2 linked regions of the Homo sapiens genome follow. The protein of the gene in region 1 purifies or fractionates together with the protein of each later gene. This does not show direct contact. Each region holds a gene or a part of one and is shown on either strand. Other genes may lie near its edges.

Region 1 (3,826 bases):
TTCTCTATGGTCATTGGCTGATTCTAATTCTTAATATTTGCTTTAATATTATAATCAGTTGTAAATTATAAAAATTACCTAGTTTGTGAGTAGTCCTGGTGCCTTCTTTTTTCTTTTTTTTTTTAACCATCTTGCCTTTGGCCATTTTATTCATTAGCCCTTAATGAGCCCTTAACGAACGAATAGGGCAGGATATAGAGCTGTTGGTGAAACTCAAAACTGTCAGTTTTTCTGATTATTATTACCTTCAGTGGTAAAAAATTATTTGAAAGTAGGCAAAACCTATTAAAATAAAAATGCATGTTTAAGATCTTCTTTGGATTTTGGTTTTCCATAATCAAGTGTTGTATTCCACGGGAAAATATTAATAGCTATCTGTAATCCTGTTGAAATTCAGTGGTATACCAGAAGACCATGTAGGGGCCTTTCGAAGGAAGACTCCAGCTGTGTCCTGAAGGAGACTGGCCTTTGTGGTAAACATGGAGTCATTCAGGGTGGGAAATTCTAAGAAGGGCCAGACTTGGAAGGGAGGGTTGTGTCTCAAAATGTGATGTATATTCTGGTTTGACAAATTACTTGAACAGACATCCAAGATTAGAACACTGTTTGGGTTATTGGTAGCATTTTCTAGATACATTTTGACCCTTTTTCTTTAACCCTTCAATCAACATTAACTAAAATTTGTTAGCCATCAAATAGGAGTACAGGGTTTCTTTTTTTCTGATTTTTTAGTTTAGGTAAATGAAGAATCTTAAAAGGTACATAAATATATAGTCAATCATGTCTTTAGTTATACATTTAAATAATTACTTTTCTTGAAAATAAAATTTGGGACTATTTTGGAAAATTTTTGATATGTAGTTGTCAGGTCTATATCTAGCCAATTAATTAATGTCTTTCATATTTATATATTTGTATATATACACACATGCACATATAAACATACATATATACACATGTATTTGTATGTGTACATGTATATATATGTATAATTTTTCCCCCTTTTGTTTCCTAAGTCCAAACCCTCTTTTCCTTTTCCTTTTCCTTTTTTTTTTTGAGATGGAGTCTCACTTTGTCACCCAGGCTGGAGTACAGTGGTATGATTTCAGCTCACTGAAACCTCTGCCTCCCAGGTTCAGGCGAGTCTCCGGCCTCAGCCTCCCCAGTAGCTGGAATTACAGGCGCCTGCCACCACACCTGGCTAATTTTTGTATTTTTAGTAAAGACAGGGTTTTACGATTTTGCCCAGGCTGGTCTCGAACCCTTGACCTCAAGTGATCCATCCGCTTCAGCTTCCCAAAGTGCTGGGATTACAGGCATGAGCCACTGCGCCTGGCCCAGAGGCCCAGGCCTTCTTTTTCTTATAACTCATATACTATGGCACACTCTTCGTCAGTCTTCCTCAGAATAGTTCTCATCCCTTCAAATGCAGTCTTCAGCCTTTGTCATTAAGAGCTCTGAATTTTCCCTTTTGCCGGGTATTCTTGTTTCATATAGTTCACTTTACTTTGCCTGTCTCAAAAGACCTTCTCCATCTACCTAGTACCACGCTCAAATTTTCTACCCCCTCCCACCTCCCAATCTCTCTCCTTTCGAAGCCATCTTTTCACTGTTCCTTGTATGGTGCTCATTTCTGACTAGCCTGGTAGACTAGGCTAGGGGGAAGGAAAGATGTTTCTCCTCATCTTCCCTTCCCTTCTCTGAACTTTTATGATATGCAATAACTCGCAATGTAGCACTTATTTCTTTAGTGTATAGAAAATCAGATCAGAGACTTCTGGGATTTCATCTTTATATCAGATTTATATCAGTTATTGCTAGGTCCATAGTAGGTGTACCATAAAAGTATACTGAGTAAGTCATCAAAGAACAATAGCTGCTGAAGTGATGAAAAATCCTTAAAGATGGATATTTGCTTTTGGGGGTATAGTGTTTAAAAGTTGGAAGACTTCCTGAGTGAGGGCGGCTATCTTCTATGCAGCAGAATTTTAGGATGAGTGATTATGGAAGACAGATTTCCTGTGACCAGTTGTTTAAAATGCAAAAGAGATGTTCTTGGTGTCAAGTTTTATCTTCATTTAAGACACTGGAATTAGTCTGAGGGTTGGAAAATTGTCTTTCCCACTACCACCCATGCCCAAGTAGGTAGGTCTTTGGGAAAGAAAGGGCTATGGAGGAGTGTGGAGACCAACAGAAGATACGTAAGGTATCTGACTATTAGTATCTAAAGACGGAGAAGAAAAATAACCAGTAATTATGGTTGTGGAGTCCTAGTGAAGTCTAGTTTGAACAGCATTCTAAACCAATGCAGTAATTTAACTGATGAGTGACAGAGTGGTGGCATTCAACTTGTAGTTTTATTTGGCCATACCTTTCACATTCTTTTTCCTGAGGAAATGCCCAAACGTGTAGATTCGAGTGACAGCAAGGCAGTTAAATAATCTGGGATATGAATGTGATTTTGTTTTACACTTCAGCAGCTATAAAACCAGTGAAGAAAACTCTGGGTTCTTTTTTCCCTAAGGAAAATTGAATGGTTTCTTTGTATTTCTTTTGTGTAACTGAATTAAATTTTTAATATAGGGATTATTTAATTTCTATGCTTTATCTTCATCAGGAATCCAGAAGCTTCTTATAACTGTTTAAAAAAAAAAGTTGCAATTCTCTTGAGCTTCTGCCAGTAGCTTAGAGTGATGCCAAAATTTATGTGTGGGAAAGTTGATTTCAATGAGGGTAATTTAGCTGAAGTTTAGTCTAGGAAACTAGTGTTTTGCTGCCAAGCAATTATTTGCACATTTCTAAAAAATGACTTATACTTTTACCAATGCTTTTTTTCATCATAGACTGGTTACTTAAGTAAGTTATTGCCACTAGTGGCATATGCTCCATAAAGGAAACTATATTCTTGTTTAATTTGGTTAATAACCTCAGACTTTTAAAATGTATGTTATTTGGGTACTTCTATTAAATGTTGCCTTTTGTCTAAATAAAATCCACAGGAATTAAATCAACAACTAGAAAAAAGAAAAGAAATGGAAGAACGTGAAAAAAGAAAGATAATTGCTGAAGAAAAGCACAAGGAATGGGTTCAGAAAAAGAATGAGCAAGTAAGGAGGGGAAAATGGATACACACATTGACATCTCTTTTGCAAAATATTTCTTCCTATTATACTTCATTACCTAGGTTTTAAAAAATACTTCTCTTAGAGTCTTTCTTCTTTGGCTTGTTTTGTTTTTCTATCCTGGTGGACATTTATCAAGTCTCTATCTTCTGCCCTTTGCCCTCTACTTTTCTCCTTTTTCCCTCCTGTGGCTTGCACTAATATTTGCCTGCAGGCAGTCACCAAGTCTGTATTTCTAGGCCTGACCTTTTGGATCCTTATGGCAAGTGCCTCCAAGTCTGCAAATCTAAAACAACCCATTTTGCCCATTTCTCCTTCGTAAATCCATCCTCCCATTTCTCTGTTTCATTCAGCTGTCTTCTCGGTCATCAAGGCTTAATTAGAATTCTTCTGTTGTTCCTAATCATCTCCTCCTTTTCTTTACAATTACTACTCCCCTGTTTGTGATCTCTTTCCATTATATCTTTCAACTTGTTGTTTACTTCTTATACTGGATTGTAAGCTACATAAGGGCAGGGATTTTTGCCTCTTTTGTTCAGTTTTCCAGGAGCTAGATGAATACCTGCGCATGATATATGTCCAAAAATAGTTTAATTGAGTGAAGATGTTCATTGAATGGCTGCATTTTTTCCTTTTAATTTTAATATATTCTTCTATGGATCACACACATTCGAAATTTTAAAAATACTTATTCTGTGGTCAAT
Region 2 (3,826 bases), about 68 Mb from region 1:
ATGTGATTTATTCAATATGTATTAGCTTAGTCTGAAAACTTAAATATACCTTTCTCTGAAGAAAATATTATAAACATAAAATTTGTATCCATTGAGAAAGAATGTTAAATTTAGATGTATTAAATAAATAAATGTCATTATTAGATGTCATTTGTGTATTTTTCAGAATCAGCAATCTAAGTCCAGAAGAAGAGCAGGGACTGTGGAAACAGAGGTAAATACATTGCTGTATTTTCTGAAGTATTTTGAAATGTATATTTATAAATGTGATATCCCTTCAACTTTGTTACTTAAGTCTTACCAAAATCAGTATTTTCAGTAATATTTTAGGGGAAGATGAATAACTTATCATTTGGTTTCTCTGTCCTTTTTACTCTAACTATTCTTATTAATGTTTGGTTTCAGCCATAAATCCTCTGCAACAATTCAGAATGAAACTCCAAAGAAAAAGCCCAAATTGGAATCTAAGCCATCTAATGGAGATAGGTAAAAATGAATTCTTTTAGTGTTATGAAAATTCAACTTAGTTGAATAGTTATGGTTGAATGCCAGTTATTACTAGATAAAAAAATAGAAACATGTATTTTCTACATTGACTTGAGTCACCTAGAAGAATAAACATAAATTAGTTTAAAATTTTTAGCTTAATTTTGGCAATAAGAAAGTGGCACTGAACTATGTTGTTCTATTTGGGAAATAAATTTGGGTTTTGAAGAAACAAATTTGAATGGAGAACATTATTTTTATCTTTATTCTTCAGTGAAACACAAATCTAATTGTGATATTTTAAATTGACCTGCTTAGAAAATGTTTTTAGATTAAAAATATTATGAGCGTTACTTTGTTTTAGTTCATTAGCCAAAAGTTTGCTGATGTTACTGTACAAATTGGCTGCCTATTGCTTTACACTAGAAGTATTGACCCCCTTAAAGCTAATACTGAATTATATTTCTGCAGGTGTATGTAATGTGTGCCATTAGTAAGGTAATTTGCCAGTTGCATCCATTTCTGTCAGGTACATATTTTTTTGCATTAGCCTTAAGGATGTTTGTGGAATTGTCTAATTTATGCAATTTGAACACCTGCTAATTTTCCTTCTACTTCATTTAACTGTGTTTTACTTTTTTCTTTTTAGTAGCTCTATAAATCAGTCAGCAGATAGTGGGGGAACAGACAATTTTGTCCTTATAAGTCAATTGAAAGAAGAAGTGATGTCACTTAAGCGTCTCTTACAGCAGAGAGACCAGACCATTTTAGAAAAAGATAAAAAGGTAAGAACATGGTTCATTGAAGCCTGGTAAGAGTTATGTGTTGACTGTTGCTTGATAATCGCAAATTTTATTAGACTTCCTTTAATAATTTGGTAATGTTTGTTGTGCGTGATTTTTATAAGACAAATTACAAAAGCCCCTGAAGCCATCTAATGAAGATGGGTAAAAATGGTCTTTCAGATTTTTAGTTCTAAGAATTAACTGAGGCTTAATTAGGATAGTAATTTCCAAACTTTAATTTTCAGTAAGCATGTAATTTAAAAATAGATCTAATACCTAATTAAAAATGAGATGTAAATGGAATATTTCATAAACTTTTTTGATTTAAGAATGTAGTTTGAACAGTCTTTGATATAACATTCATATATTTGTATCAATCCAGTCATATATTTGTATCAATCCAGATCAAAATACTGCTGAAAAGTAATGGTATGGGAATTTCCTGTAGTAGTCAGTAATAGTAATTAGCAATAGATGTCTAAAAGCTCATTGTGTAGGAAGTAAGTGTACTTATTGGGACTTCATCAGTTAAATGAAGAGGAATATTAAAATGTGTTGTTCATTTAGTGAAAAGAGGAATATTAACAGAATTACAGAAGGATTTAAGGTCTTGTGCTATGAAATCAGGATGGCACAATAGTGGACAGGCATGGAACAGGAAACAGTTTTGAAGTAATTTAGCCATACTTAGATTCAAATCCTAGTTCTAACATTTTCTGTGTGACCTAAAGCAGAATGTGTGCTTCTTTGGACCTCAGTTTTCTCATTTAAATGAGAGCATTAATATTATCTGAAGTGATGGTTTTGATGATTAATGAAAATGCAAAGTATTTATTATAGCTCCTGGTATGTATAAGTGCCCATAGGGGCTATTACTGTTTGATCATCTTTTGTACTTGTTTTATGGTCCCAGACAATGTAGTTTGACCTGTATCAAATGTATTATGCAGTAGGAGAACACTAAAATCATTTCTTTTAAAAGAATAAGGCCTTAATATGAATACATATATGACTTATATCCATCTCTAAGTCTGTGCTGAGTTGGCTTTTACTTCTGGCATTCAGTAATTTTTGATACATTTTGCCACACCTTGATGGTTAGTGGGCTTAATTTATTTTAATACATTTGTAGCTTACTTTAAGCAAATTTAGTATATGAAAATTAGGAGTGACATATAAAATAGGATAGTTACGGGTGTCTTTGTCTTATGGTTCTTTTTGATTGACAGCATTTTTTAAATTAATGAGCCTTTATGGAAATTTGTCCTGTGTACAAAGTTTTAGAGACAGGCCAGATATATCTGCATTAGCCTTGAGAAAAGTTGAATAAAATGCCAACTTTACTGCAAAATAGCAATGATTTCAAAACCAAGTAGTAATCAGTTATAGAATATTGACTGCTAGATTTTTCTTTCCTCTCTAGCATAAGAGGTACTATCTTTGTATTGTGCAGTTAATTGAAGTTTTCTGCTTTTGTTAGTGTTCCTCTTTAAAAAAATCACAACACTAATGGGGATTGAAATTAGCATTGTTGTAAGGAAAATCCTAATGGTAAACCTAAAATAACTATACATTTGCAACTTTTTCTTATAAATCTAAGATGATGAAGTTATTTTACTGAATTGATTTCACAAAGTTATTTAATGATTTCTAGAGCCAGACACTGAACTAGATCATGAGGATACAAAGATGAATAAATAAGACATAATTCTTATTTTCCAGAAGTTCATAGTGAGGAGGCAACTCACAGTGTAGTGAATAGAGTAATTGTCTTAGCTGATCTGGTGTATGTTGGCATTTCAGAACAGAAAATCTTTTGTGATTAGAGAAAGTTAGAGAGAGAGAACTTAGTTATACTTTGAATTTGACAAAAGCAAGGGTTTTTTTTTTTAATAAGACTATAAGACTCCATGATTTTCTCTATTTTTGCTGTTGTATGTCTTTCAGTTTATTAGATACTGGGTAATTACAAAGGAGAATGTGTAAACCTTTAAAGCTGGCATAATGAAAAACATTAAAAAATAACCTGGAGTTCCCTCTGCATGGTTCTAATAGTGAAATTACATAATAACTTATTTAGTTTGAAGTCATGAGATATTATACTGTTAGGTATGTCATTTATGAAAAATTATCATGTAGCCTTCTTCCTCAAAGCACTGATTTTTTTCTTGTATTTGTCTAATTTAGCCCAAATTTTATAGTAACCTTCTTTCCTTTCTCATTCTGTGTTAGTTGTATTTCTGTGCTTTGTTCTCTATTTTTACCTCAAGTGTTAGGTGGTATTGTGTACATAATCCTGGACATAAATTAAAAAATGAAAACAGTGTAGCTTTTGGCTGAAAAGACCATTCCTTTTTATATTACCCAGTGTGAAATTTCTTTCTTTAAGCATTGAAAGATTATTTTACGCATAAGCTAGTTTAAATGTTTATATTGTTTTTACTATTATTGAAGTACATTTTTAAATGAGGCATTTTCCCAGTTATTAGCCGTTAAGCTTTTTTCGTTGGCATACCAGTTGCCAAACTCTATTTCCAGTCGAGCCATGTTTAGGA

Evidence for each region.
Region 2: the proteins of CCDC34 (region 1) and FAM76B purify together in Homo sapiens (affinity purification with mass spectrometry; one large-scale study listed by BioGRID and IntAct). This does not show direct contact.

Annotation. Positions count from the first base shown.
Region 1 is NC_000011.10:27,349,613-27,353,438, reverse strand, and holds part of CCDC34 (coiled-coil domain-containing protein 34), read left to right. Parts: intron 1-2,999; coding exon 3,000-3,107; coding exon of another isoform or gene 3,108-3,191; exon of another isoform or gene 3,192-3,826. UniProt on the Homo sapiens protein: Involved in spermatogenesis. Has a probable role in anterograde intraflagellar transport which is essential for the formation of sperm flagella.
Region 2 is NC_000011.10:95,776,267-95,780,092, reverse strand, and holds part of FAM76B (protein FAM76B), read left to right. Parts: intron 1-144; coding exon of another isoform or gene 145-166; coding exon 167-214; intron 215-405; coding exon 406-486; intron 487-957; coding exon of another isoform or gene 958-967; exon of another isoform or gene 968-1,015; intron 1,016-1,135; coding exon 1,136-1,271; intron 1,272-3,826. UniProt on the Homo sapiens protein: Negatively regulates the NF-kappa-B-mediated inflammatory pathway by preventing the translocation of HNRNPA2B1 from the nucleus to the cytoplasm.